Homo sapiens: one gene and its partners. The protein of the gene in region 1 purifies or fractionates together with the protein of each later gene. This does not show direct contact. Each region holds a gene or a part of one and is shown in the gene's direction. Other genes may lie near its edges.

Evidence for each region.
Region 2: the proteins of TEX28 (region 1) and NBAS purify together in Homo sapiens (affinity purification with mass spectrometry; 2 studies listed by BioGRID and IntAct, with this or other methods). This does not show direct contact.
Region 3: the proteins of TEX28 (region 1) and KIF14 purify together in Homo sapiens (co-immunoprecipitation; 3 studies listed by BioGRID and IntAct, with this or other methods). This does not show direct contact.
Region 4: the proteins of TEX28 (region 1) and TRPM7 purify together in Homo sapiens (affinity purification with mass spectrometry; 2 studies listed by BioGRID and IntAct, with this or other methods). This does not show direct contact.
Region 5: the proteins of TEX28 (region 1) and THEM6 purify together in Homo sapiens (co-immunoprecipitation; 2 studies listed by BioGRID and IntAct, with this or other methods). This does not show direct contact.
Region 6: the proteins of TEX28 (region 1) and POM121 purify together in Homo sapiens (affinity purification with mass spectrometry; 2 studies listed by BioGRID and IntAct, with this or other methods). This does not show direct contact.
Region 7: the proteins of TEX28 (region 1) and GRAMD1A purify together in Homo sapiens (affinity purification with mass spectrometry; one large-scale study listed by BioGRID and IntAct). This does not show direct contact.

Annotation. Positions count from the first base shown.
Region 1 is NC_000023.11:154,274,533-154,278,568, reverse strand, and holds part of TEX28 (testis-specific protein TEX28), read left to right. Parts: intron 1-4,036.
Region 2 is NC_000002.12:15,467,241-15,471,276, reverse strand, and holds part of NBAS (NBAS subunit of NRZ tethering complex), read left to right. Parts: intron 1-2,743; coding exon 2,744-2,895; intron 2,896-3,472; coding exon 3,473-3,613; intron 3,614-3,869; coding exon 3,870-3,948; intron 3,949-4,036. UniProt on the Homo sapiens protein: Involved in Golgi-to-endoplasmic reticulum (ER) retrograde transport; the function is proposed to depend on its association in the NRZ complex which is believed to play a role in SNARE assembly at the ER. Required for normal embryonic development.
Region 3 is NC_000001.11:200,592,972-200,597,007, reverse strand, and holds part of KIF14 (kinesin-like protein KIF14), read left to right. Parts: intron 1-3,238; coding exon 3,239-3,341; intron 3,342-4,036. UniProt on the Homo sapiens protein: Microtubule motor protein that binds to microtubules with high affinity through each tubulin heterodimer and has an ATPase activity. Plays a role in many processes like cell division, cytokinesis and also in cell proliferation and apoptosis.
Region 4 is NC_000015.10:50,589,089-50,593,124, reverse strand, and holds part of TRPM7 (transient receptor potential cation channel subfamily M member 7), read left to right. Parts: intron 1-498; coding exon 499-1,214; intron 1,215-3,468; coding exon 3,469-3,533; intron 3,534-4,036. UniProt on the Homo sapiens protein: Bifunctional protein that combines an ion channel with an intrinsic kinase domain, enabling it to modulate cellular functions either by conducting ions through the pore or by phosphorylating downstream proteins via its kinase domain.
Region 5 is NC_000008.11:142,729,756-142,733,791, forward strand, and holds part of THEM6 (protein THEM6), read left to right. Parts: intron 1-4,036.
Region 6 is NC_000007.14:72,941,960-72,945,847, forward strand, and holds part of POM121 (nuclear envelope pore membrane protein POM 121), read left to right. Parts: coding exon 1-1,563; intron 1,564-3,626; coding exon 3,627-3,749; intron 3,750-3,888. UniProt on the Homo sapiens protein: Essential component of the nuclear pore complex (NPC). The repeat-containing domain may be involved in anchoring components of the pore complex to the pore membrane. When overexpressed in cells induces the formation of cytoplasmic annulate lamellae (AL).
Region 7 is NC_000019.10:35,020,685-35,024,720, forward strand, and holds part of GRAMD1A (protein Aster-A), read left to right. Parts: intron 1-817; coding exon 818-921; intron 922-1,006; coding exon 1,007-1,180; intron 1,181-1,266; coding exon 1,267-1,354; intron 1,355-2,215; coding exon 2,216-2,227; intron 2,228-2,551; coding exon 2,552-2,659; intron 2,660-2,742; coding exon 2,743-2,863; intron 2,864-3,012; coding exon of another isoform or gene 3,013-3,057; exon of another isoform or gene 3,058-3,101; intron 3,102-4,036. UniProt on the Homo sapiens protein: Cholesterol transporter that mediates non-vesicular transport of cholesterol from the plasma membrane (PM) to the endoplasmic reticulum (ER).

The DNA of each region.
Region 1 (4,036 bases):
TGGCTGTTCTGTGAGTACCTGTTTCATGGATCAGTCTGGATGCTGCTTTTCCTCCCTTCCTGAAGGGACCCAGCTCGCCCTCTGGGCTGCCTCCCTCCTCCATGTATGTCAGAACTCTATCTGCTGTGTCTTGGGAACATCAGGGCAGGGCCAGGAGGGCTGATTCTGGATTTAGGCCTGGCCCAGCCTCCTCTCTGCAAGGTATTTACTGAATGACCTTGGACGAGGTGCTTCAAGTTTGCAATCCTCAGTTTCCACATCTGTAACATGGAGGTAAAAATGATCCCACTATTGTTGGAACTGTTGTGAGAATTAATTAATACTTGTGTGTAAGCCCCAAGTAGATGCTGATGGAACTGAATTTACAATTCCTTTCTGCTTCCTATGTGCAAACTAAGTCCTTGAAAGATCGTAAAGAAAAATGGGGCCAGATGTGGTGGCTTATGGCTGTAATCCCAGTGCTTTGGGAGGTCGAGGCAGGAGGATTGCTTCAGCCCAGGAGTCTGAGACCAGCTTGGGTAACAAAGTGAGACCATATCTCTGCAAAAAATTTTAAAAGTGTTAACCGGACTTGGTGGCACATGCCTGTAGTCCCTGCTACATGGGAGGCTGAGACAGGAGGATCGCTTGAGCCCGAGAGTTTTATGTTGCAGTGAACTATGATTGTGCCACTGTGCTCCAGCCTGGGTGATAGAGGACAGAGTGAGAACTTGTCTCAAAAAAAAAAACAGAAAGAGAGAGAGAGAGAGAGGAGAGAGAGAGAGAGGAGAGAGAGAGAGAGAGAGAGAGAGAGAGGGAGAGAGAGAGAGAGAGAGAGAGAGAGAGAGAGAGAGAGAGAAAGAAAAAGAGAAAGAAAGAAAGAAAGAAAGAAAGAAAGAAAGAAAGTTGTTAATGGCTTTTTTTTTTTTTTGAGGTGGTGTCTTGCTCTGCTGCCCAGGCTGGAGGGAGTGCAGTGGCTTGATCTCAGCTCACTGCAACCTCTGCGTCCCGGATTCAAGTGATTCTCCTGTCTCAGCCTCCTGAGTAGCTGAGATTACAGGCATGCACCACCACGCCCAGCTAATTTTTGCATATTTTAGTAGAGACGGGGTTTCACCGTGTTGGCCAGGATGGTCTCGATCTCCTGACCTCGTGATCCGCCCGCCTCGGCCTCCCAAAGTGCTGGGATTACAGGCATGACTGCAGCCGGCCAATGTCTTGGAACTATTAATAGCCATGGTGGTTGCACAACACCACATGTGCTAAATGCCGCTGAATTGTTCACCTTAAAATAATTCATTTTATGTTACATGAAATTTACCTCAATAAAAATTGAATAAAAAAGAAGCTACTCAGGTGCCGAGTAGGCAAAACTTTCACTCTTGCTTTGTATTTCTGGCTGTATCCACAAGTGGGCAGTCGTGAAATTTTCTTATAGCCTCCTGTCATATTGAAAACGCCCGGAAGTGAATATGCCAGGTCTCCATGTTTTTCTTTCCCTCCTGGACACGAGGTCCTTGGGGGCATCCAGACCCTAGCTCCTCTGTCCCAAGACTGTTCTGGTATGTTTCGCTTTCAGACGAGGCTTGGAGATAACAGGCTATGGTTCCTAGAGGCTTCAGTGTTGCTCTGTGACCTCTCAGCCCCAGGGATCCAGCCTCGGGCTGACTTTCCTCAAGGTATCTGCTTAGGGCTTTGTTGCAGGCTGGGGTCGTGTTAACTTCCATTTTTTCCCCGACTTCTCCTCCATGTCACAGCATCCTGCATCTTGGGATCTCTGAGGAGGTCTGACCTAAGGTCTGATCTGCTCTCTGAACTGGTTCCTCTCATCCCTATTGCGTTGAAGCAAAGCACAGACATTATATCAGTTCATCTGTAAATATTTCAGTGTGAACCTGAAATATGGATCATTTTGTTAACATAGCCTAAATACCATACCAAAAATGTTTTAAAACAAGTCCACAATGTTAAATATGCAGTCACTGTCACCTTATTGCCTCACACATGCCATCATTCCTTTTTATTTCTGAAGGAATTCTTTTTTTTTTTTTTGTGAGACAGAGCCTCACCCTGTCACCCAGGTTGGAGTGCAATGGTGAGATCTCGGCTCGCTGCAACCTCTGCCTCCCAGGTTCAAGCGATTCCCCTGCCTCAGCCTCCTCAGTAGCTGGGATTACAGGCATGTGCCACCACGCCCGGCTAGTTTTTGTATTTTTAGTAGAGACGGGGTTTCACCATGTTGGCCAGGCTGGTCTTGAACTCCTGACCTCGTGATCTGCCTGCCTCGGCCTCCCAAAGTGCTGGGATTACAGGCGTGAGCCACCACACCCGGCCCTGAAGGATATTTTTTGCTGGACATAGAATTCTAAGTTGGCACTTAATTTTTGGAAATAATAAGCATTTTGAACAAATCATTCCCTTCTGACTTCCATGGTTTCTGTTGAAAAGGCAGCTGCCAGTCTTCTTGTTGCTCCTCGGATCACAGTTTTGTTTTCCTCAGGCTCCTTTTAAGATCTTTTGTTTTTCTTTGTTGTTTAGTGGTTTTGCTATGATGATGTTTGGCGTGATTTTCTTTCTCTCTTCTTTTTTGTGCCGCTGACTCTCCCCTTGGTGTGATTTTCTTTGCATTCATCCTGCTTGGGCTTCGCATTGCTACTTGGGTTTATGGCTTGATGTCTTTTGTCAGTTTTGGACGTTTTCAGCCATTATATTTTCAAATAGTGACTCTGCCCTAGTCTCTCATTTTTCCCCTTCTAAGGCCCCAGTTACATGTATGTTCAACCTTTCCACTGTATCCCTACATCCTCTGGGTTCCTGTGTGAGCCGTCCTGGCGAATTTCCTCCTGCTTTCGCTTCTGTTTTGTTGGCTCTTCCCCCAGCTCCCCAGGGCCCCTTGCTTTGGCACATTTGCTCAGAGTGAGCTCATCCATCCTGGCCACATGCACCGATTGCACCTGGGCTATTGACCCCTCCTACAGCTGTTTCTCCGTCTCAGACTTTTCCTCCAAGTTGTGGGCCATGATTAGGCTCTAGCTCAATTTGCCAAAAGCAAATTCTCAGAAATGACCAAGAATATACTCTTTCTGGCTGGGCCCAATGGCTCACACCTGTAATCCCAGCACTTTGGGAGGCCGAGGCAGGCGGGTCACCTGAGGTCAGGAGTTGGAGACCAGCCTGGCCAACATGGTGAAACCCTGTCTCTACTAAAAATACAAAAAATTAGCCCGGCATGATGGCGCATACCTGTAGTCCCAGCTACTCAGGAGGCCGAGGCAGGAAAATCACTTGAACCCGGGAGGCGGAGGTTGCAGCAAGCCAAGATCGTGCCACTGCACTCCAGCCTGGGCAAATAGAAGGAGATCCGTCTCAAAAAAAAAAAACAACAACACTATTTTGAAAAAAACAATAAAGTTTAGAACACTTTGTGTTGGAGAGGGTGGTCTTAACACCTTCGGTCTGTCTTGAGGGTGTCTGGGTTGACTGGTCATCGTTTTGTGTTCATAAGAGCATTCTCCAGAGTTGTCCATTTGCTTCTGTGACTGTAGGAGGTGGAGAGAGGGGGGTCCTTGACCAAGGAAGAGAAGGGAGCGCGGCTGCCAGAGGGCCAGGAGATGGGGGCCAGAGAGAAGGGGAGACTGAGAGAATATCCTTATGAAAATATTGTTTACTGACATCTGAAGAGACTCTTCAAGAATGCACTGAAGAATATCTTCATGTATCTTTACCAATACATTGATGAAGATTGACTTCATATTCCTGAGGACAGTTAAAATCTTGAATGTTCTCACAGCTAGATCATTCATGTAAATGGAAAGACAGTAATGAGGAATCTATTTTCGGGGTGACCATCCTGCCGACCCACTCCCCCTCTCTGTGAGCAGTGGCCTAGTCCATGTTGTCCACCGACTCTCTTCTTAACAGGGACCTGGGGCAGAGACAAATGGAATATTCCTTGAAATGCTGCGAGGAACCAGCTTTTGACAAATTGGCTTTCAACAAATGAGCTGTCAGCTTATTCAGTGCCCGGGGGATTTCTCCGTGTGGGTGTTGGTCAAGT
Region 2 (4,036 bases), on another chromosome or scaffold:
TGTATTTTCTTTAGAAAATCAAAACACTAATTCTGTATTATTTTTCTTTCTTGTTTTGTGATCTAAGACAATGAGCTCATGAGTTCATGTATATCTTTTTCTGGGATACAGTAAAGGACAGTTTTTGTCTCTGAGGGAGTTGAGGGATGTTAAGAGAGACAAAGCAAGTACTTTTTTGGGGAGGGGAATATTTCGTTTAGTTAAATAGACAGTTAAGAGCAAGAGCACTATGCTAGGGACTGTGAAGGGGTACAGGACAGGCATAAATGTGGCTTTTGCTCATAGGGAGCTTATGATTTTTTTTGTTTTGTTTTGAGATGGAGTTTTGCTTTTTTTTGCCCAGGCTGGATTGCAATGGTGCGATCTCGGCTCACTGCAGCTTCTGCCTCCCTGGTTCAAGTGATTCTCCCGCCTCAGCCTCCCAAGTAGCTTGGGACTACAGGCACACAACACCACACCTGGCTAATTTTTGTATTTTTAGTAGAGACGGGGGTTCACCATATTAAAAATAACTGGCCGTATAAGTAGATTTCAGATACAACTCTAGAAACCCAGTGAAGATAGTGATTATTATAGATCTGGTAGAGATGGAAGATTTTATATAGTGAAGATGTTTGGAGCAGGGATTTGGAAGGATTTAAATTAGGCCTTCTTGAATGAGAAGGGAGGAAGACATTCTTAACAGGACAGATGGTATGAACAAATTAAAAGACACTGAGCATGATTTATGAGGCCAGTGACTAAATCTGTTTTATTCACTGCTATATTTCCATGTCTAGTTCAGTGGCTGGTGTGCAGTAGGTGCCCAGTAAACATTTTATGGATAAATGAGCTCTGTACATCAACCAGTTTGCTGGCACTGATATTTGACAATAGTGAACACTGGGAAACATGATTGAAAAGATATATTGATTTGAGTTCAGGAGGATGTGGAAAGCTTCTGATGACTTAGGCATTTATCTACTGTTGTGGATTTCTGACTGTGGAAGCAGAGGAAGATGGTGTAGAGAGAATTGGAGTGGAAGGAAGGTAGGAAACCTTGCTTGGGGCAGGGGACTCCTACAGTGTGCTAGATGTTTTGTGTTGATGATTTAGACTGGTATGGAGGCCGCAGCTGTGGAAAAGGGAAAGTGAATTAAGAGACATTTGAAGAAAGAACTGATGTGAGGCAATATATAAAGGATCCTAGGGAATGAGTCAAATCTTAATTAAAATTTATAACCATAATAGCTCTTTCTAGGAAGAGGGCAAGTCAGGGATTTTTTTTTTATTTTTTATTTTTTAATTATTATTTTACTTTAAGTTCTAGGGTACATGTGCACAACGTGCAGGTTTGTTACATATGTATACATGTGCCATGGTGGTGTGCTGCACCCATTAACTCGTCATTTACATTAGGCATATCTCCTAATGCTATCCCTCCCCCCTCCCCCCACCCCCCAGCAGGCCCCGGTGTGTGATGTTCCCCACCCTGTGTCCATGTGTTCTCATTGTTCAATTCCCACCTATGAGTGAGAACATGCGGTGTTTGGTTTTCTGTCCTTGTGATAGTTTGCTCAGAATGATGGTTTCCAGCTTCATCTATGTCCCTATACAGGATGTGAACTCATCCTTTTTTATGGCTGCATAGTATTCCATGGTGTATATATGCCACATTTTCTTAATCCAGTCTATCATTGATGGACATTTGGGTTGGTTCCAAGTCTTTGCTATTGTGAGTAGTGTCGCTATAAACATACGTGTGCATATGTCTTTATAGTAGGAAGATTTGTAATCCTTTGGGTATATGCCCAGTAGTGGGATTGCTGGGTCAAATGGTATTTCTAGTTCTAGATCCTTGAGGAATCGCCACACTGTCTTCCACAATAACAAAGACACAACATACCAGAATCTCTGGGACACATTTAAAGCAGTGTGTAGAGGGAAATTTATAGCACTAAGTGCCCACAAGAGAAAGCAGGAGAGATCTAAAATTGACACCCTAACATCACAATTTACAGAACTAGAGAAATAAGAGCAAACACATTCAAAAGCTAGCAGAAGGCAAGAAATAACTAAGATCAGAGCAGAACTGAAGGAGATAGAGGCACAAAAAAACCTTCAAAAAATCAATGAATCCAGGAGCTGGTTTTTTGAAAAGATCAACAAAATTGATAGACCACTAGCAAGACTAATAAAGTCAGAGATTTTGAATGGAGTTGGAGGAAATAGTTGGGAGGGAGGAATAGGACTTTGATCTTTCCAAAAAACAGCATATCATGACTTTTTATGATCAAGTTATTCACACCCTGGGATATATCTCATGGTCAAATAAATACAGAAATTTGATGGGCTCATTTGTTTTGTTTAAAAGTTAAACATGCTTATTAATTATGACAGAATATATCTTGCCTTTCTGCCTTATTGTCTGCTCTATTATACAGCCACGGTGCAAACCAAAGGCATTTATAAAAGTTAGGAGGAAACATTTTATATTTCCAAAAATGAGTCCTGAGCTTTCTGTTTCTGCGTAGCTCATTAGAGGAAGAAAGCAAGCAGGTCAACTCACACTCCCCGCATCCAGTTGTAGTCACCATTAGGCAACTGGCTGCTTTTCTCTTGAGTTCCTCTAGCAGCTCCCTATGGCCAAGGTCCTAAATAGCTGTAATACATCAGGTATAGCTTTACAATTCTGAAGGCAGTTGTAATGTGTTGTAAGATGTCATGGATTCTGTAATTCCTCTGTTTCTTCCTTTATATGCAGAGTAAAATAAAGAAGCGATCCTGGGTTCTCCATGAGTGTTTGGAAAGAGTTCCTGAAAATGTGGATGCTGCAAAAGAACTGCTTCAGTATGGATTAAAAGGCACAGACCTGGAGGCTCTTTTAGCAATAGGGAAAGGAGCAGATGATGGCAGGTTGGTTACAGAAAGAATTGGATTCAAAGTAAAGGTGACTTTGTGAAAACTTTTGTACTGAGACATTGGACTGGGTAAACTTTTCTTTATTTAAGTTATTCTGTACTGAAGCAGTTGCTTTTGATCAATACTGTCTTACCTGAAGTCATTGCTCATCAGGCATTTGGAACTTTTTAAAAAATATAAATATGAGAGTATATCTGAGAAGTAAATAATTAAAATGAGACTGACACTACCATTTGAAGACCTTAAGTAGAAGTGATTCAAATAGCAAACTCTGTGGACATTTTCAGCATAGGCTGCTTTACATTGAGTGAATGTAACCCCACATCTCTTCCTAAATAGTTTTCATTTTCTTGATTTTTAGATTTCTATTTGTAATAATTACTGATGACTTTTTGCCCATCTGTGGATATAATGAATGATCACTTTGTTTACAATGGCAAAAGTTTTTTTCAAATACTTTCTTCTGTTTTTGTGGAAATCAATAATGAAATCAGTCAAAATAGGAGAAAGCTTTTCACAACACGAAGTTTTTAAAAATGATGAAAATATATTTGTTCTTTTATACTTGCAGATTTACATTACCTGGTGAAATAGACATTGACAGTATCTCCTATGAAGAGCTTTCACCACCTGATGAAGAGCCTGCCAAGAATAAAAAGGAAAAGGAGCTCAAGAAGAGACAAGAACTACTGAAATTAGTGAACTTTTCCAAGTAAATGAGTTGTTACTGTTCATTTGATAGTTTCTTTAAAATAACTAATCATTTCAGTGTGTTCCTTACTAGTAATAATTAGTCCAAATTATTTTAGCAACTTAGATCAAATGTACTTACTATTATCTTACCCTTGTGCTTTTCTGAACTGTTTCATGAGTTTTGGGCTCAACGGAATATTAATCATTTTCATTATAACTCCTAGAGAAATAATTCTGTGTAAATATAAGTGGCCTAACATAGTTATTCAAAACAGGTTGACACTGGAACAAAAGGAACTTTGCCGTTGTAGACGGAAGTTATTAACCTACTTAGATCGACTTGCAACATATGAGGTAATGAATAATTTTTGTCAAACCAATTATGTTCATTTGATCTGTCATTATAAATGCTATGGCTGCCCTAATATCGGATATTCTTGGT
Region 3 (4,036 bases), on another chromosome or scaffold:
AGAATCGCTTGAACCTAGGAGGTGGATGTTGCAGTGTGCCGAGATCATCATGCCACTGTACTTCAGCCTGAGTGACAGAGCGAGACTATGTCTCAAAAAAAAAAAAAAAAAAAAAAAAAGAGAGAGAGAGAGATAGAGTGTTCTGGCCAGGTGCGGTGGCTCACGCCTATAATCCTAACAGTTTGGGAGGCTGAGGCGGCAGATTACTTGAGACCAGGAGTTCAACATCAGCCTGGCCAACATGGTGAAACCTCATCTCTACTGAAAATACAAAAATTAGCCCGGCATGGTGGTGGGCACCTATAGTCTCAGCTACTTGGGAGGCTGAGGCATAAGAATCACTTGAACCTGGGAGGTGGAAGCTACAGTGAGCCAAGATGACTCTGCTATACTCCACCCTAGGCAATAGAGTGAGACTCTAACTCAAAAAAAAAAAAAAAAAAAAAGACTGTTGTACATTGAGGTCATAGAGATGTTCTAAATTTTCTTCTAGATGTTTTGAAGTTTTGCTTTCACATTTAAGTTATTGAATGTCTGGAATTTTTTATTTGGTGTGAATTAGGGATCTAAATTCATTTATTTTCCACATGAATAGCCATTTCTCCCAGTACCAAATATTAAATAGTTTATTGCTTCTTTTGGAATCTGTAGTGCTCCTACAAAAAATTTCTAAAAATATCAGAATCTGTTTCTTCCTACTAATACCCCATGGTCGTAATTACTTGAGCTTTGTAATGAATCTTTATTTATTTATTTTTTGATTTCAGAGTTTTGCTCTGTTGCCCAGGCTGGAGTGTAGTGGCACCATCTCAGCTCACTGCAACCTCCTGGAGTCGAGCAATTCTCCTGCTTCAGCCTCCTGAGTAGCTGGGATTGCAGATGTCTGTTACCACGCCTGGCTAATTGTTGTATTTTTAGTAGAGATGGGGTTTCACCATGTTGGCCAGGCTGGTCTCAAACTCCCACCTCAGGTGATCCGCCCACCTTGACCTCCCAAAGTGCTGGGATTACAGGTGTGAGCTACCACGACCGGCCTGTAATGAATCTTTATATCTTTTTTTTTTTTTTTTTTTTTGGAGATGGAGTCTCACTCTATCACCCAGGCTGGAGTGCAGTAGTGTGATCTTGGCTCACCGTAACCTCCACCTTCTGGGTTCAAGCGATTCTCGTGCCTCAGCCTCCTGAGTAGCAGCCACCATGCCCAGCTAGTTTTTTGTATTTTTAGTAGAGACGATTTCATCATGTTGGCCAGGCTCGTCTTGAACTCCTGACCTCAGGTGATCCACCCACCTTGGCCTCCCAAAGTACTGGGATTACAGACGTGAGCCACTGCACCTGGCCATGAATCTTTATATCTGTTAGGGCATATCCTTTTGTTCTTTAGGTTCTTTTGCTCTTTTATTAATTAATTATTTTCTTTAACAAATAAATACAGTATTATTAACATCTGTGGCAAAGATACAGAACATGCTCCCAAAGAGTTAAGAGTCCAGTAAGGAACTTGGAAGCCTCTTGCTTGCCTCTAACTCTCTACTTCCATTTTTCGTACCTTCCTCAGTTTATCTTGTTCACTAGACCATGAACTTTATGAAAGCTGATTTCATGTCTGTCTTCATTGCTGACACATAACTGGCTCTTGGAGGCTTAATGAATAAAAGAACTTCATGGCTGAGGCTGGTCATGTGAAAGAGAAAAAAAGAACTTCAGTATCTATTAATGCATATTAAGTGTTATGAGTACTGCATACTTACTGCTTAGAAGTGAAGAGAAGGAAGAGTTGACTTCTAACTTAAACCCTAAAGAACAGCTTCTTAGAGGACTCTAAATTGGGCCTTCAAGAATGGTTGCAAGAAGGGAGAGGATGTCCTATCTGGAAGGAATGACTCAAGGAAAGGAGGAAAGCTGACATTAAGGCAAATTCAGAGTATTCATATGGTTGATTAAGTGTGAAATGGGGTTCTTATGGGAAAATAGTGGCAGATGAGGGAGGTTGGTGGTTGAAGCCAGATTGTGGGGCGTCCAGAATGGTAGGCCATGGAATTTTGAGAGCAGAGTAGATAGAATTAGGAGAGGAAAGGGATCAGAACAAGTACACATTGTATAAACCTTCACCTGGATAAGACACTAGACTGGTAGGAGGGATGTAGTGCCTAAGGGTGAACTATTGTTTCCATGTACTTTTCTCTAGATGCTTTAATTAAACTATTATTCTCTAATCACAGATCTTGGAGCCTAATCCACAGCTAAAAAGATCTTTGGTTAGGACTCAGCTTTTGTTGCAGTTTTTCTTTCTATCCCGTTAATCCAAAGATGAATTGGACTTTGGAGTTTCTTTCCTATTCTCTGAATAAAAAGACTCAAATATGTAGCACTTATAGCTGATTTTCCACAGTATCACCTTATCATCCAGTAAATTAGATGTCTTAAGGGGTACACTTTGATCTCCATGTTTTTCCTTCCTCTGTAGTACCCTACTTTTCAAAAGGGGAGAAATATTTGTTCTTTCTGTTATTAAAGCTCATATGTAAAACCAGAAGCTTAGAAAATTAAAAAAACACTTAAAACTGTTTTATTCATAAGAAATCACTGGCAGTATGTTAATGTTTTTTGCTAGTTTTTTTTTTTTTTTTTTTTTTTTTGAATTTTTGGGGGAAGGTTTTTGTTTTCAAAGAAGTTATAATAAAAATACACCCAATGAAGAATGTTCCCACCACAGGTGGATCGGATTGCTAGAGGCCAGGCTTTTTTCACCAAACTTCAAAATCTAATTGGAGGCTCGATGCAGTGGCTCATGCCTGTAATCCCAGCATTTTGGGAGGCCGAGGCAGGTGGATCACTTGAGGTCAGGAATTAGAGACCAGCCTGGCGAACATGGCAAAACCCCATCTCTACTAAAATGCAAACATTAGCTGGGCAGGGCATGGTGGTGGGTGCCTGTAATCCTAGCTACTCAGGCAGCTGAGGCAGGAGAATTGCTTGAACCCAGGAGGTGGAGCTTGCAGTGAGCTGAGATTGTATCACTACACTCCAGCCTGGGCGACAGAGCAAGACTCCGTCTCAAAAAAAAAAAAAAAAAAAAACTAGTTGGAGGAAAATAAAATAATTTTAAATTATTGTTACATATTGGTATGAATCTTAACACCAAAGGAATAGCCCAAGCAGAATTATCCCATATTGCCTTTTTCTTACTTTTTAGTGTGTTCTATAATTGTTAACTATGTGCTTCTTATTTTAACAGTACTATCAAAAATTTTGGTGGGACAGTGAGTATTATCCCAGTTGGGGAAGCAAAGACATATGTAAATGGAAAACATATTTTGGAAATCACAGTATTACGTCATGTAAGTGGATGGGTGCTATAATATAAGAAACTGTTCGACTTTGGATAAGTCATTTAATTTCTTTGAGTTCTGGTTTTCTCTATAAGATAAGGGTGTTGAAGCAGATTAAGGACTTTTTCATTTCAAAAATTCTTTTTCCTATTAATTGCTTTCTTGTGCAAAGACAAAAGTTACATTTATATGAATCAGTACCTGAAGAGCTGACCACTAATAGCATCATTATGTGTCCTATAAAGAGCTAGGCTTTAGAATCAGACAGACAGGGTTGAAATCCTGGCTTTGCCATTTGCTCTGTGACGTCTGGCAAGTTATTTAACTAGATGATTAAACAATGTCACCCAAGTCAGGACACTTTTGAGATCATTATTAATAATTACATCAAGAGAACAAACATCAGCAGTGTGTTACAGGCAAACCCAGACCTATTGTGACTCTATATATCCTGCCTTTCAGAGATAGTGAAGGATTAACTGAAATAATAATTTGTGTATATAGTTCTTAGAATAGTATCTGCAAATAGTAAGCTCTCAATGAATGTCTCTTGTTATTATTAAGCTTTGTGCTGTTTAGTTTCCTCATTCCTAAAATTGGGATGATTATATGTATCTCACTGAGTTGTTGTGAATCGTAAATGAGATAACATAAAGTCTTGCACTTCATAATGATGTTTTGGGCAATGAGGGACCACATATGTA
Region 4 (4,036 bases), on another chromosome or scaffold:
TAGAGACAGGGTTTCAACATGTTGGCCAAGCTGGTCTCGAACTCCTGACCTCGTGATCTGCCCGCCTCAGCCTCCCAAAGTTCTGGGATTACAGACGTGAGCCACTGTGCCTGGCCAGCATTTCTTTTTTTCTGTTGGCTTCACTACATTCTGGAAGCATATGGTGTTTGGTAACAGTTACAGTAACAGTAATGGTAGTTCTGTATATATGTAGCTGTATATACATTATTTTGTGTTACTTTGATGTGGGGTAATTGGAATAAGTAGCCTGTGGAACAAAAACGTTTTTTGAAATCTTGCATTTTAATATAAGATTAGCACTGGATCCTTCTTAAACATAAGGTAGGCCTTGTATAATTAAATAACTGTACCTTATTTTATATCTTGTTTAAATGCATGTGAAATTTTTCTCTTTTTATCATTATTATTTGAGGCTACAAAATAAAATTCTACATTATTTTTTCACATTTGTAAAAAAAGCTTATTTCTCTCCTACAGAGTGGAACAGATGTGCATTCAGATTAAAGAAGTTGGAGATCGTGTCAACTACATAAAAAGATCATTACAATCATTAGATTCTCAAATTGGCCATTTGCAAGATCTTTCAGCCCTGACGGTAGATACATTAAAAACACTCACTGCCCAGAAAGCGTCGGAAGCTAGCAAAGTTCATAATGAAATCACACGAGAACTGAGCATTTCCAAACACTTGGCTCAAAACCTTATTGATGATGGTCCTGTAAGACCTTCTGTATGGAAAAAGCATGGTGTTGTAAATACACTTAGCTCCTCTCTTCCTCAAGGTGATCTTGAAAGTAATAATCCTTTTCATTGTAATATTTTAATGAAAGATGACAAAGATCCCCAGTGTAATATATTTGGTCAAGACTTACCTGCAGTACCCCAGAGAAAAGAATTTAATTTTCCAGAGGCTGGTTCCTCTTCTGGTGCCTTATTCCCAAGTGCTGTTTCCCCTCCAGAACTGCGACAGAGACTACATGGGGTAGAACTCTTAAAAATATTTAATAAAAATCAAAAATTAGGCAGTTCATCTACTAGCATACCACATCTGTCATCCCCACCAACCAAATTTTTTGTTAGTACACCATCTCAGCCAAGTTGCAAAAGCCACTTGGAAACTGGAACCAAAGATCAAGAAACTGTTTGCTCTAAAGCTACAGAAGGAGATAATACAGAATTTGGAGCATTTGTAGGTAAGTTTGGCAAATTCGTATTTGTATATCAATATTATTTACTTTTCACCTTAGAAATAATAGAAATATGTACTGTTACAAGTCATTATCTTTTCATAGAGTATAATTATAAAATTTTTAAAAAGAATCAGACACCTGTGATTCTGGTACTTTGGGAGGCTGAGTGGGGAGGATTGCTTGAGCCCAGGAGTTGAGGACCAGCCTGAGCAACATAGCAAGACCCCATCTCTACAAAAAATTTTTGGAAGTAGCCAGGCGCAGTGGCATGTGCCTGAAGTCCCAGCTACTCAGGAGGCTGAGGCAGGCGAACTGCTTGCACCCAGAAGCTGAAAGCTGCAGTGGGCTGTGATCACACAACTGCACCATAGCCTGTGTGACAGAATGAGACCCTGTCTCTAGAAATGAAATGAAAAAAAAAAAAAAATCAGAAGTAGGGGAAATAGACTGAATTAGGCTATAAGAGTTATATTGGCACATAACCTCTTTGATGGAATTTTAGGTTCTGTCTTTTGAATTTGAATATCTTCAATTGGGTTTCATCAACTCTTGTTGAAAACCTAAGTGATTCTTAAGTACTTGGAGAACCTCATAGGGGAGGTTAGAATCAACTGGAAAAGAACAGTGCCCTATAAATAGATGACCATATAATTTTTTTACCCAAACCAAGACACTTTAAAAGTGAAAGGGTGCACTATTAATAATTATATCAGAACAACAATGGAAATCTAGGAATCTACTGGGAAAATTAGTACTTATGGTGTACCTATTTATATATTCACAGAGAACATTTCAAAAAGGAATGACTTATTCTTATACCTATGATAGCTTAAATAAGATAAGAACAAAAAAAAATGTTTATTTTGGCAGTAACACATTAAAGACCTTAGTGAAAACTTTCATGCATAGAGATTATTCAGACAGTATGTTAATAAGCCCATGGAAAATTGCCACATTAAGGCCAGCCTAGGAAGTTATCTAGGCACTAAACATGTTGATATTACTTCTAGGCTATATGGGATTCACTCTAGATACATAGATATAACTTTTCCTACGTTAAATATATTCCCCCTTTTTTTTTTTTTTTTAAAAGACGGAGTCTCCCTCTGTCGCCCAGGCGGGAGTGCAGTGGCACAATCTCGGCTCGCTGCAACCTCTGCCTCCCAGATTCAAGTGATTCTCCTGCCTCAGCCTCCTGAGTAGCTGAGATTACAGGCACACGCCACCACACCTGGCTAATTTCCAATTTATTTTTAAAAATGCATTTTAGCCTATTTGTTAATGTATTACCAGTGGGGTGTATGTATATATCATATATATTTTCTCTACATGTATATTATATAGGAAAAGTTACATATCTGTATATCTAGAGTGAATTCCATATAGCCTAGCAGTAAGTATCAGCATGTTCAGTGCCTGAATAACTTGCTAGACTGGTCTTAATGTGGAGATTATACATGGGCTTATTAACATGTTGTCTGAACAATCTCTATGTGTGGAACAGTTTTCATTAAGGTCATTAAAGTGTTATTGCCAAAATATTTTTGTTCTGTTTTTGTTTAAGTTATAGGCATAAGAATAAATCATTCCTTTTTGAGTGATTATCCGTATATATGTAATGCTTTTTTTTTTATTAATAGTAAAAATGCTTGGTCCCCTTTTTTCTTTTAAATTTCGAGCTATTTATTCATATCACATGTTGGTTTGTTTTATAAGGACTTTGGCTTTTAACGTTACTGTAAACTTAACTATAATCTTGGCCAGGTGCGGTGGCTCAGGCCTGTAATCCCAGCACTTTGGGAGGCCAAGACAGGCAGATCTTGAGTTCAGGAGTTCAAGACCAGCCTGGCTAACATGGTGAAACCCTGTCTCTACTAAAAATACAAAAATTAGTCAGGCATGGTGGCACGTGCCTGTAGTCCCAGCTACTCAGGAGGCTGAGGCAGGAGAATTGCTTGAACCCGGGAGGCAGAGGTTGAAGTGAGCCAAGGTCACACCACTGCACTCCAGCCTGGGCAACAGAACGAGACTTGTTCTCAAATTTAAAAAAACAAAAAACAAAAAAAACTGTAACCTTCACCAGCTTCTTGGCAATTTTCAATTTTATTTATCAAAAGAGCTAAAGGAGACTGCAGAGCCATCAAGTGTACTTGAAAAACAGCATAAACCTATTGTTTTTATAAACTTTAAGCAGTGCCATTATTTCGGTGAAGAAAAATAAAAATTTCTCATTGCAACATCTTTTTTTCTATTAAAGGACACAGAGATAGCATGGATTTACAGAGGTTTAAAGAAACATCAAACAAGATAAAAATACTATCCGTAAGTAAATCCTTATTAAAACACCCACAGTTCTATTTATTTTACTGTCTTGATGTTTAGTTCAAAATTTAATTAAACATTTTTTCAGCAAAAATACAGTTTTAGCAGATATCATTAACATGCTGATACCAAATATTTGAAGCTGTCCTCAGTTTGAAAAAATGAACAATTGAGGAACATGAAAAGGTACAAACAGCTTGCGTAATTATACTCACTAAATAAAAAACATCAGCTATTTAACATTTCTCTCTTTTTTTTTTTTTTTTTTTTTTGAGACGGAGTCTCGCTGTCACCTGGGCTGGAGTACAGTGGTGTGATCTCCGCTTACTGCAACCTCCACCTCCCGGGTTCAAGTGATTCTCCTGCCTCAGCCTCTTGAGTAGCTGGGATTACAGGTGCGCATCACCATGCCTGGCTAATTTCTGTATTTTTAGTAGAGATGAGGTTTTACCATGTTGTCCAGGCTGGCCTCAAATTCCTGACCTCAAGCGATCCGCCTGCCT
Region 5 (4,036 bases), on another chromosome or scaffold:
AGGGTAGTCCTTTCAGTGAAATAGATGAGGGGTTTTAGATCTGCACAGACCTTTTTCTTGGAAGTTTAACTTTGCTCCTGAGCAGTTGAATGTGTATAGTCCCGTTTACTACAAAGTTGGCAGGCTATAGGAGCAGAACATTGGCATCTTGGCTGCAGGTCATTACGATAATGAGAGCTAGGGGTAACCATGTCCATCAGAGGGCTGGGACGTAAGCATTTGTGTGAAAAGGCTAGCTGTTGTTGATCTTTTACATTTCCGCAAGGTATGACAGAACAAGCATTCAAGGCGGTGGTCTGAGGTGAGTTAGTTACAGTAATAACAAAGGCGCTAGTAACAATAAGGAAAGGAAGCAATATGAAGGTACAGGAAAATTAAGCTTTCTTTAACTTTAACTTAGTAGGATTGGTCCTAGTACAGTCATCCATGATTCTGAGAGAAAGATGTTTTCTTGACTGGAGTGTGGTCGTTTTTTTCTTGGCTCTGCGGATGGCAGTCTCAGTGGTTAACAGCATAAAATAGGGTTCTTCCCAGGCTGGCTCAAGTTTTTTCTTTCTGTCTTTTGATGAGGACGTGGTTTTCAGGCTGGTGCTGGTGTACTGGAAATTCTAGGGGTGGTACCTAGAACTAAAAGTCTTTTAGTTCTGAGGGAAGGGAAACTGGAAGATAAATTAAGTATATCATTTTTGCTGCATATCCTGGGGCTTGAGGCCCCATGGTGATGCCTCCCGCTCCATTCCTGCTCAGCGCCGCCCAGGGGACACTGCGGCCCTGCCTCCTCTTAAGCTCTTGGCCTTCTTGGGGCCTTCACTGCCCCTGTGCACTGTGGCCTTGGACATGAGGGGCCTTGTGACTTACCTGGCCACCTTCAGGCCTTAAGAAAGCTAAACACCATTTTATATTTGACAGTGCTTTTTGTATGATTTTATACCAGATAAGTTAAATTTTACCTTTATACTAATGTGCTATTAATGTTAAACTTAATAAAATCTTTTTTTTTTTTTTTTGAGACAGAGTCTTGCTCTGTCGCCCAGGCTGGAGTGCAGTGGCGCAATCTCAGCTCACCGCAAGCTCCGCCTCCCGGGTTCACGCCATTCTCCTGCCTCAGCCTCCTGAGTAGCTGGGACTACAGGCGCCCGCCACCATGCCCAGCTAATTTTTTGTATTTTTTAGTGGAGATGGGGTTTCACCGTGTTAGCCAGGATAGTCTCGATCTCCTGACCTCGTGATCCGCCCGCCTCAGCCTTCCAAAGTGCTGGGATTACAGGCGTGAGCCACCGTGCCCGGCCAAACTTAATAAAATCTTGTAGACATTATTTATTCAATTTTAATGTCTGACTATAGGGTAAGATTTTTATAGACTCTTTTTAAGCTTTTATAATTTTTGTTAAAGAGCGGGTTAGTGCTTTAAGAAAAATCTATTGTGCTTTTAACATCCAGTTCACAGAAAAACTGCATGATACCCCTTTAGCTTTAGCCAATATGTTTACACACAGAATTTCCTTTACAATTAACATTTTAAAACTTGCTTAAACCTTTAAAACAAAATATATTTTTTAACCTTTTAATGTAGGTAAAAATCCATATTATGTCTCCTTATAATCCTGTTATTAAAAGTATTATTTTATTTTTCTGACATACCTTGTATATAAACTGTTTTTTTTTAAATAATTTTACATTCAGGAGGCCTAATTACTTTTAAATTATACACTATTTCTTGCATAAATTCCCTTTTATAGCTTTTCTTACAACTTTCACAATCTTCAACATGTCTTAACTTTCTGCCTGCCTTTTACGCTATTTCTTTTTCTCAGTTTCACCCTCTATGTCTTCCTTTGATTTCTGTCTCTTCCAGTTTCTCTCTTATTCTTTCCCTCTGTATTTTAATCTCTTTCTGTCTCTTCTCTCTCTTCACTCTCTTCATCCCCTGCTTCCTTCTTCCCTCCTGAGTTCTCCCGCTCCTGCAGCAGCAGGGCCGGGCAATGGCACCAGCCCCTGGGCATGCACTGCCGTCAGTTTCTCTATCCACCCCCACCATTCCCCTTTTTACTTTTTTTCCCCTTTCTTCCTACACTTAGTTTCTCGGGCTGGGTGGGATTTGCATGGCTGCAGTCCGGCCCCGGCAGCCCAGAGGCTTGGCAGATGCCTGCCACAAATTGCAAGAATTATGCCCTCTCACCTCCTCTGCTCTCTTCCTGGCGCCGCTGTGCTTGCTGTTTTTGCTTTCTTTTTTTCTGACTTCCTCTCCTAGTTCTTTTTCCTGTCTGCTGGTCTTTCCTTTGTCTCTGCCAGCCACCTATGCTGCTGTTTTCCCCCCTCTCCTTCCCCTTCCCCTGGGGGACCAACCAGCGGGAGTGAAGCTTAGCCTTTTTCTTTCCCTGTGAAGAGGGGAAAAGGGAGTTTTGAATATATATATATATATATATATATATATATATATATATATATATATTTTAACTACTGGAGGTTTGTGTGAGGTTCAACCCCCTGAAATTAATGGAAGACTTAACCCCTCAAACCAGGGGTGTCTTGCCTTGCCTGCCCTGGGAGGTTGACCTGTTTCCTCCTTTCCCCCCAAAGGTCCCTTGCATACTTCCCACTTGTGTTGTCCTCTCTGGTCGCCCCCCCAAGGGAGAATTAGGCCCCTCTTAGTGTAGGCGTGCTGGTATAAATCCCACAGCAGGACCTGCCCTAAGCCATATGAGGTCACTACAGAACCGGAACCATGGAGGGGACCCACTCACTGTCCAGCAGGAGGACTTGTCACCGTCCACACAAACCACACTGCAAGCAGGGTTGTCTGTGATCATTCACACATACACACATTCAGCCCTCCAGAATTTCACCACCAAGGAAGTACTTTACCAGCTTCTGTGGCTTCTCCTTCCTTGGTCTGTGCACAGAGTTGCAGCCCTGGTATGTGAGCATCCTTTACCTTAGGTTGCTGGCCAGTTTCTTTTTTTTTTTTTTTTCTGCATTGCTGAGAGTCCGGGTTTATTCGTCACACCAGGTGGGTCTCAATTTCTCATCCCTGAGGCCACTGCAGTGAGGCAGAGGAGCGTGCTCCCTCATGAGAGAGGAACAGAGACCGCCCCCGCAGGAGAATGTAGCCCTGTACGGATTGCCACCAAATTGTTTGAAATGCTTGTTCCCCGGTGCCGTAAAGAAACAGCAGTTGAACATAAATTTAATTTACTCAGCAAGGACATTTTTACTTCCTGCAGAAAGGACACACTTGCCATCAGCTTTGCCACAAGAGTTCACCCAACAAAGGAAACAGGGTCATTTATAACCTGACGCGTCCACCCTATTGCCGTCTCTGGTTTCCATTGACTGGGATGGGACCTCACATTCTGTATCTGTCCCGATTGGCTAGCAACGTACAACTTTTTAAAAGAGGCAAAGGCAGAGGAGAACAAAGGAAGGAAGTAATTTGTGGAATGCTGAGAAAGGTAAAAACACCTTCAAATAAGGAAGAGGAACAGGCTATGACCTAATGCCCGCTTGGACCAGTATAAGCATGCCAGGGCAAATATTTAGGCTAAATTGTGGGAGCTAAGAACCTAAAGTAGTACATTGCTTTCTTTATTACTGCTAGCAGATATTTAATAATGTTAGCACAGGTCTTTGAATAAATTTTGCTTCTAAGAGAAGTTACTATTTATTCCTAATTAGATCGGTAGGAAAGTCTTTGAAGAGGAACCTCTACTTTACAACTAAACATCTAGAGGCTCGGAATGCCTCTTTCTGGGGATGCAGCCCAGCAGGCCCCAGCCTCATTTCCCAGCCCTCACTCAAAATGGAGTCGCTCTGGTTCCAGCGCCTCTGACACTGAGAGGTCATGTCAGGAATGGGGAAACTGAGGCTCAGAGGAGCTATGGCACTGCACAAAGCTACACGGCTCCCTGGTCTTCTGTTTCTGTTGAGTCATGTGAACCAAAAAGTATCGGAGATATGTCTCAGTCAATTTAGAAAGTTTACTTTGCCAAGGATAAGGACTCACCAGTCCTGACAACATGTGCCCAAGGTGGTCGGG
Region 6 (3,888 bases), on another chromosome or scaffold:
AACCCCCGACCACTTTGCTGGGGCTGATCCCTGCTCCATCCATGGTACCAGCCACTGACACCAAGGCACCTCCAACCCTTCAGGCAGAGACGGCTACCAAACCCCAAGCCACATCTGCCCCGTCCCCCGCCCCCAAGCAAAGCTTCCTGTTTGGAACACAGAACACCTCACCTTCCAGCCCTGCCGCCCCTGCTGCATCTTCAGCACCTCCCATGTTCAAGCCCATTTTCACGGCTCCACCCAAGAGTGAGAAGGAAGGCCCCACACCGCCTGGCCCTTCAGTCACAGCCACAGCGCCCTCCAGCTCCTCCCTCCCCACGACCACCAGCACCACAGCCCCGACCTTCCAGCCTGTCTTTAGCAGCATGGGGCCACCTGCATCTGTGCCCTTGCCTGCTCCCTTCTTCAAGCAGACAACTACTCCCGCCACTGCTCCCACCACAACTGCCCCGCTCTTCACTGGCCTGGCCAGCGCCACCTCTGCTGTGGCTCCCATCACCTCTGCCAGTCCATCCACAGACTCTGCTTCGAAGCCTGCGTTTGGCTTTGGCATAAACAGTGTGAGCAGCAGCAGTGTGAGTACCACGACCAGCACCGCCACTGCCGCCTCACAGCCTTTCCTCTTCGGGGCGCCCCAGGCCTCTGCTGCCAGCTTCACCCCGGCCATGGGCTCCATATTCCAGTTTGGCAAACCTCCTGCCTTGCCCACAACCACCACAGTCACCACCTTCAGCCAGTCCCTGCACACTGCCGTGCCAACGGCCACCAGCAGCAGCGCTGCCGACTTTAGTGGTTTTGGCAGCACCCTCGCCACCTCCGCCCCGGCCACCAGCAGCCAGCCCACTCTGACGTTCAGTAACACGAGCACCCCCACGTTCAACATTCCCTTTGGCTCAAGCGCCAAGTCCCCGCTCCCATCATATCCGGGAGCCAACCCCCAGCCCGCATTTGGGGCCGCTGAGGGGCAGCCACCGGGGGCCGCCAAGCCGGCCCTTGCCCCCAGCTTTGGCAGCTCTTTCACTTTTGGAAACTCTGCAGCCCCGGCTGCTGCACCCACACCTGCACCTCCGTCCATGATCAAGGTCGTGCCTGCGTACGTGCCTACGCCCATCCATCCTATCTTTGGCGGTGCCACGCACTCGGCGTTTGGGTTGAAAGCCACGGCTTCGGCCTTCGGCGCTCCCGCCAGCTCACAGCCCGCCTTTGGCGGCTCCACTGCTGTCTTCTTCGGTGCAGCCACCAGCTCCGGCTTTGGAGCCACCACCCAGACCGCCAGCAGCGGGAGCAGCAGCTCGGTGTTTGGCAGCACAACACCATCACCCTTCACGTTTGGGGGTTCGGCAGCCCCCGCTGGCAGTGGGAGCTTTGGGATCAATGTGGCCACCCCAGGCTCCAGCACCACCACCGGAGCTTTCAGCTTTGGAGCAGGACAGAGTGGGAGCACAGCCACCTCCACCCCCTTCGCAGGGGGCTTAGGTCAGAACGCCCTGGGCACCACCGGCCAGAGCACACCGTTTGCCTTCAACGTGAGCAGCACAACTGAGAGCAAACCTGTGTTTGGAGGTAAGGAGGGGCGTGGACTTGGGCTACCGGGCCGGACACTGAAAAGCTGTGCCTGCGAAGCCTGTGGTCTCGGGGAGCTTATGCTGTGGCAGTGAAGAGACAGGCACTGAATATAGAACTCAGTGAGATGCCAGGGAACGATACATGTTTTGCTAACGTAGTAATGACTGGAGGAGCCATTGTGGATTTAACTGGTCAAAGGCCTTCTGAGTAGTTAACAATTGTAAGCTGAAGGTTGGGCGCAGTGGCTCACGCTTGTAATCCCAATATTTTGGGAGGCCAAGGAGGGTGCATCACTTGAGGCCAGGAGTTCAAGACTAGCCTGGACAACTTGGCGAAACCCTGTCTCTACTAAAAATACCAAAAAATTAGCCGGGCGTGGTGGTACCCACCTGTAATCCCAGCTACTCAGGAGGCTGAGGCACAAGAATGGTTTGAACCCAGGAGTTGGAGGTTGCAGTGAGCCAAGATCATGCCACTGTACTCCGGCCTGGGTGACAGAGCAAGACTCTGTCTCAAAAAACAAACCGTAAGCTGAATATGGGGGTGGGCACAGCACAAGTGGACATGCCTTTCAGGCCCAGGATGGCGCATGCAAAGGCCCAGAGGCAGAAACATGTTTGGTATGTTGAAGAGCAGAACAAAGACAAGCATGGCAGGAGGGCAGGAGCTAAAGCAGTGGTGTGGAAGGAGGCCAAGAGGCAAGGATTGTTTGTGGCCAGGGTTGGGTGTTTGGGTCTTAAGTGTTCAGGAAAACCATTGCAGAATCAGGCAGAAGGATGCAGTGATGGTTCCTCCCATGTGGAAGATGAATGTAGATCCCATGGCTTCTGTTTGCTTCGTGAAGTAGAGAAAATCTGGGAGAGAGAGGGTCAGGATAAAGTGTATAAAAAAAGGGGTCTTTTGAAATAGTCATTTTGGACAGTGGGGGAAAGGAACATCATATTAAAAAGTGTGATCAGTTTCCAGGCAGTTTGTGGGCTGGAAAATTGTGATTGTGAAGTTAAAGTGAGGCCAGTTAGCATGGCATGTGTTTCCCAGCGACACTGTGGGTGTAGACCTAAGGTCAGCGGACAGCTGGTGCCACCCGGCCATGGAGACCCCAGCAAGCACAGCAGGAGGGGCAGCGGGTCAGTGCCCCGATGCAGCTCAGGGGGTGCAGGAGTGGAGAGCGGGTGAAGTCAGCTGCAGGAGGGGTGGTGCCTACAGGAGATTCGGGAGCCGGAGCAGTTGTGGTGACAGTGTGGCTGCAGGAGTGGTGGCAGGGGTCGGGGAGAGGAGGTCATGGGGGTGGCAGGGTTGAGGGGCTGAGAGGACCATCAGTCAGCCTCACAGGGCGAAGTCACCGTGAGTGGTGATGGGAAGGAAGCCAGTGAGCCAAGGGTCCTCTGTGAATCAGGGAGTGACCTGGCAGTTGACAGGTGACATGAGGACATGGCAGATTAAAGTGATCTGAACTTGAGTTACGGTATTTAGGGAAGGAAGAGAAACAGTGTGGAAGCAGCGTGGGAGCACAGGGAGCTTCCTCTTGTCCGGGCCGGAGGCCAAGCCCTGAGAGCAGCCATCCCTGCAGAGGGGCTGCCAGAGAGGGCCTCGGGCAGGCAGCCAGAGCCAGTCAGGGCAAGGCCGGGGAAGGGAGGGGACCACGGGGCATCACAAAAGACGCGGGACGGACAAACCAGGCTTCAGAGGGGAGGGGACGGTGGCTGGGGGAAAAGGCCTGAACAGAGGAGGTAGCCAACCCAGGTACGCTAGGAGGCGGGGGCCCCAGAGTACTCCCCTCTGCAGCGATGGTCAGGAGGCCCACGAGGTGGCTGCGGGGCAGGGGGGCTTTTTCTCTGCCCTGGCGTGGCCATTAGCGGGTGGGAGAAGCAGGCTGAGCTGGGGCACCAGGCATGAAGACTCGGTTGTCTGGCTCAGCTGCTGATGGAGGAGTGCCCCAGAAGCAGAAGTGGGGCTGAGGGTCCCGTGGGAAGTGCCCTGCGGAGCACAGGCTCCTGCCCGGCTCCTCGCTTGCCTCTGCCCTCTGCTCACTGGCCAGCTCTCTGTTCTCTTCATTCCAGGCACCGCCACCCCCACCTTTGGTCTGAACACCCCTGCGCCTGGAGTGGGCACATCAGGCAGCAGCCTCTCCTTTGGGGCATCCTCAGCACCCGCCCAAGGCTTTGTTGGTGTTGCACCTTTCGGTAAGCAGCAAGCCACCCTGTGGCCCTGCTCATCTGTCTGAGGAGGGGTTGGGCGGGGTGGCAGGTTCCTGGTCCTCTGAGGCCCGGTGAAGATCAGGTTCAGCACAGGAAAGACATTTCGGGTTAGGAGTCCAGCACA
Region 7 (4,036 bases), on another chromosome or scaffold:
GAACCAGATGTGGCTCATGGTGAAGACTTGACTTTACCTGGAGTGAGGTGCAACCAGGCCAGGGCTCTGAGCCAGGAGGGCGCTGACCTGACTCAGGTGGTCCCAGGCTCCTTCTGGCTCCCTCTGTTCTGGTGGGAACAGACTGCAAAGACAGGTACAGGAGCAGGGAGGCCAGGGAGGAGGCTGCTGGGACATCCAGGCTGGAGGGGACGGAGGCTGAATCAGGGTGAGGAAATGGAGGGGGAAGAGTTTAGATTCTGGAGAGATTTTGCAGGTTTAGCTGACAGGATTTGCTGAGAGATTGGATGTGGCGGTGAGGGAAAGAGAGCTCAAGGAATATCCCGAGGCATTTGGCCCAAATCACTACAACTTCGGAGCTGCCCTTGACCCAGATGGGGGCGGCAGGGAGGAATGGGTTTGGGGAAAGACCAGGAGGTCAGTTTGGGACTCAGCTGTCTATGTTGAGCTGAGCCCATGTGGAGCTGGGGTGCAGCAGCCGAATGGAAGAGGTTCAGGGGCATGGTCTGGTTAAGACGTCAGTCTGTGAGTAGACAGGGCTCAGGCCGCCGGGAGCGTTGCCCAGGTAGTGGGCATGGGTGGAGAAGGACCGAGGGCTGAGTTGGCTGGCATTTGGGCTGGGCGGGTGGTGTATGGGGTATCCAGGGAAGCCATGGGGGGTAGGGAACCCATCTGTTTTGTCTGTGAGTGACAAGGGGCCCTCTCTGAATTAGGGGAAGGAAAAAACTCAGCTTGTGGGACGGGGCAGCCAGGGCTGGAGTCAGACCCTTACCTCCTTCCCCTGATCTCCCAACCCCAGAGTGTCTTCTGAGATCCGCTACCGAAAGCAGCCGTGGAGCCTGGTGAAGTCGCTCATTGAGAAGAACTCGTGGAGCGGCATTGAAGACTATTTCCACCATCTGGGTAGGGACAGAAGGCCGGCTGGGGCGTGGGTTGGGGGATGGCCTGGCCAGGTATGGACATCCAGAGCCCCCTCTCTTTTACGCAGAGCGAGAGCTCGCCAAGGCTGAGAAGCTGTCTCTGGAGGAAGGCGGGAAGGATGCCCGGGGCTTGCTATCCGGCCTGCGGCGGCGGAAGCGGCCCCTGAGCTGGCGGGCTCACGGGGACGGGCCCCAGCACCCAGATCCTGACCCCTGTGCCCGGGCCGGCATTCACACCTCGGGTACGTTCCGTTGGGGCCGGGTTGGGGTAGGCGGAGGATCGGGGGTCCTGGACTGGGCCATCTGACTCCAAGCTGCTCTCCTGCAGGCTCCCTCAGCTCCCGCTTCTCCGAACCATCTGTGGACCAGGGCCCCGGGGCAGGCATCCCCAGTGCCCTGGTTCTCATCAGCATTGTGTGAGTAAGAGACAGGAGCAGTGGCCACACAGGCCTGAACCTGCCTCCTGGCTGTGTGACCTTGGGCAAGTGTGTGGCCTCTTTGAGCTCTCTGCTTAAGTGGGAGCGTGGGTTTGCTCACAGCAAGGATTAGACAAGGCAATGTTTGGGATGTGCCGGTTTGTCATGGAGAAGCCTTCCCTGCTAGAACAGCAGAGCCGGGGGGGGCTATGGGAGATCAGAGGGGCCTGACCTCACCCAAGGATCAAGGGGGGCTTTCTGGAGGAGCAGGCACACAAAGATTCTGGAATTAGGTGCACAGGGAGAGGTGTGCCTAACAAGTGAGGTCATTTATGGACATTATGTTCTCTGTGCCCACTCCTAAGCTGGGCGATGCTGAGGACACCGCAGTGACCTTGAGGAAAAGATAGACCTCACACCAGACCAGAGTGATCCGGGCTGGGATGGGGGAGGTATGGGCAGAGGGGTTGGGGCTGGGAGTGGGGAAGCCCTGGGAGGCCAGCGGCGGCTTCCTCCCAGGCCAGAGGGGGCAGTCAGGATGGGCGTCCTGAGAGAGTGGAGACCGCGTAGGCTAAGGGCTTGGGCAGGGAGAACCCACACTCCTGCCCAGAAGCCTGCAGGAGTTGGCGGGCAGGACGCTGGGAGGAAACAGAAGCAGGATCCCGGGGTTGAGCAGACCCTGCGAGGTGAGGGTCAGGCCAGCTACATGCTCAGCCTCTGAGCCTCAGCTCTCAGCTCTCATCCAGTGAGGGGGCGTGGTGCTCTCAGCCAAGAGCTGCCCCGGGTGAGGAGGGCTGGGGGTGTCGGGGGCAGGCCAGGCGGCGCTCATCTCTCTGTCTCCCCTCACTGCTGCTGCTGCAGGATCTGTGTGAGGTAGGGTCCCGAGTCCTCCCCCTGCCCTCCCCTCCCTGCACCCCACCCCTGCTGCAGCCTCTTCTCCCCACCCCATGCCCCCCAGCTCCCCCAGGGAGGTGGCCTGGCATGGCAGTCAAGGGTATGGGCATCAGACAGACCTGGGTTTGAACACTGACTTCCCTGCTATGGACTGTGCAACCCTAGGCATGTCTCTCATCCTCTCTGAGCCTAATTCTCCTCCTCTGCAATGGGGGATAGAGGTGTCCCTACAAGATGTAGTTGTTTGGGGGTGTTCAGAGCATCTAGACCCCAGGAATCCTGACCTCTGACCCCTGTCCCCAGCCTTATCATCCTCATCGCCCTCAACGTCCTGCTCTTCTACCGCCTCTGGTCCCTGGAAAGGACAGCCCACACCTTTGAGTCCTGGCACAGCCTGGCCCTGGCCAAGGGGTGAGTGGGTAGCCTGGGGAAATGGGGGGGCTTGGGCACATCGGGGGAGGCCAAGGCCCTGCTCAGGCCTGGCATCCCCACAGCAAGTTCCCCCAGACGGCCACAGAGTGGGCCGAGATCCTGGCGCTGCAGAAGCAATTCCACAGCGTGGAGGTGCACAAGTGGAGGCAGATCCTGCGGGCCTCCGTGGAGCTCCTGGATGAGGTAGGAGGCGCCGCTCGGGCAGGGCTCGGGGCTGCGGGGCTGCAGGGTCCTGTGTTGAAACCCCACCGTGCGGCAGGCACTTCCCCTCTCCGGATCTCAGTGTCCTCCTCTGTAAAATGAGGAAGCCGCTCAGAGTCCCCACCCCACAGCATTGCAGGGGAAAGCATGGAAGCATGGATGGAAGACAGAACTGATTGGCTCACGTCCTGGAGAAAAGTCCAGAGGCGTCTCACATTAGGCACGGCCGGGTTTGGTCACTCAATGGCAGTAAGAGTCAGTCTCTCGTGCCCACTCTGCCCTGTGCCCATCTCCAGGGTTGGCTTCATTGGAGGCCACCCTTTTCCCCCCACAGGGGACCACGGAGCTTACTCTCATTGGCTGCTGGGGTCCCAGGCCTACCCCTGACACATCACAACAGCCAGGGCAGGCCACGTGTGGTCCCTCTACCCGCTACCCCACTCTGGGGTAACTAAGGGGTCACATGGTCTGAAGGGGAGAGACTCTCCAAAGGACCTGAGGTCTCATCTCCAAAACGGAGTGGACCCAGACACCCAGTGTAGTTCAGGGACAATGTCTACTCAGACAACCAGGTTCCAATTCCGGTGTGTGACCTCGTGCAAGTGATTTTGCCATGGTGGCCGTGGACTCCTCTGTGCACAGGATAATGACTGATGCTACCTCAAAGACTGTTGTGAGGATGAGACAAGTTGACATTGGGAGTGGTGCCAGGCCTGCAGGAAACACTGGATGTGGGCTGGCTGTCCTGAGTTTGAGCCTAGTGCCAGGGACAAAGCAGATGCCCAATAAATGTGATGTCATCACACGACAATTCCCTCAGGCCCCAGTAGACTCAGGCCAGCAGTTGCGGTGGGTCAGAGCAAGTGTCAGGCCAGCAGTTGCGGTGGGTCAGAGCAAGTGTCAGGCCAGCAGTTGTGGTGGGTCAGAGCAAGTGTTAGGCACTCGGGGAAGGTGTCGAGGGGGAAAGCGGATGGGAAACAGAGTCTGGCATTGCCTGCATTTCCAAGGCCATCAGAGCTGAAGTTGTGGGTGACGGTGAAAATCTTGTCTCATTGGACCCTTCCATATCAGAAGGCTCATCTTTAGGGGTCTCATTGCCCCCCGAAATCAAGCTTGGGAGAGGCTCACACTGGAAAGGGCGGGGCAGGATGGGGT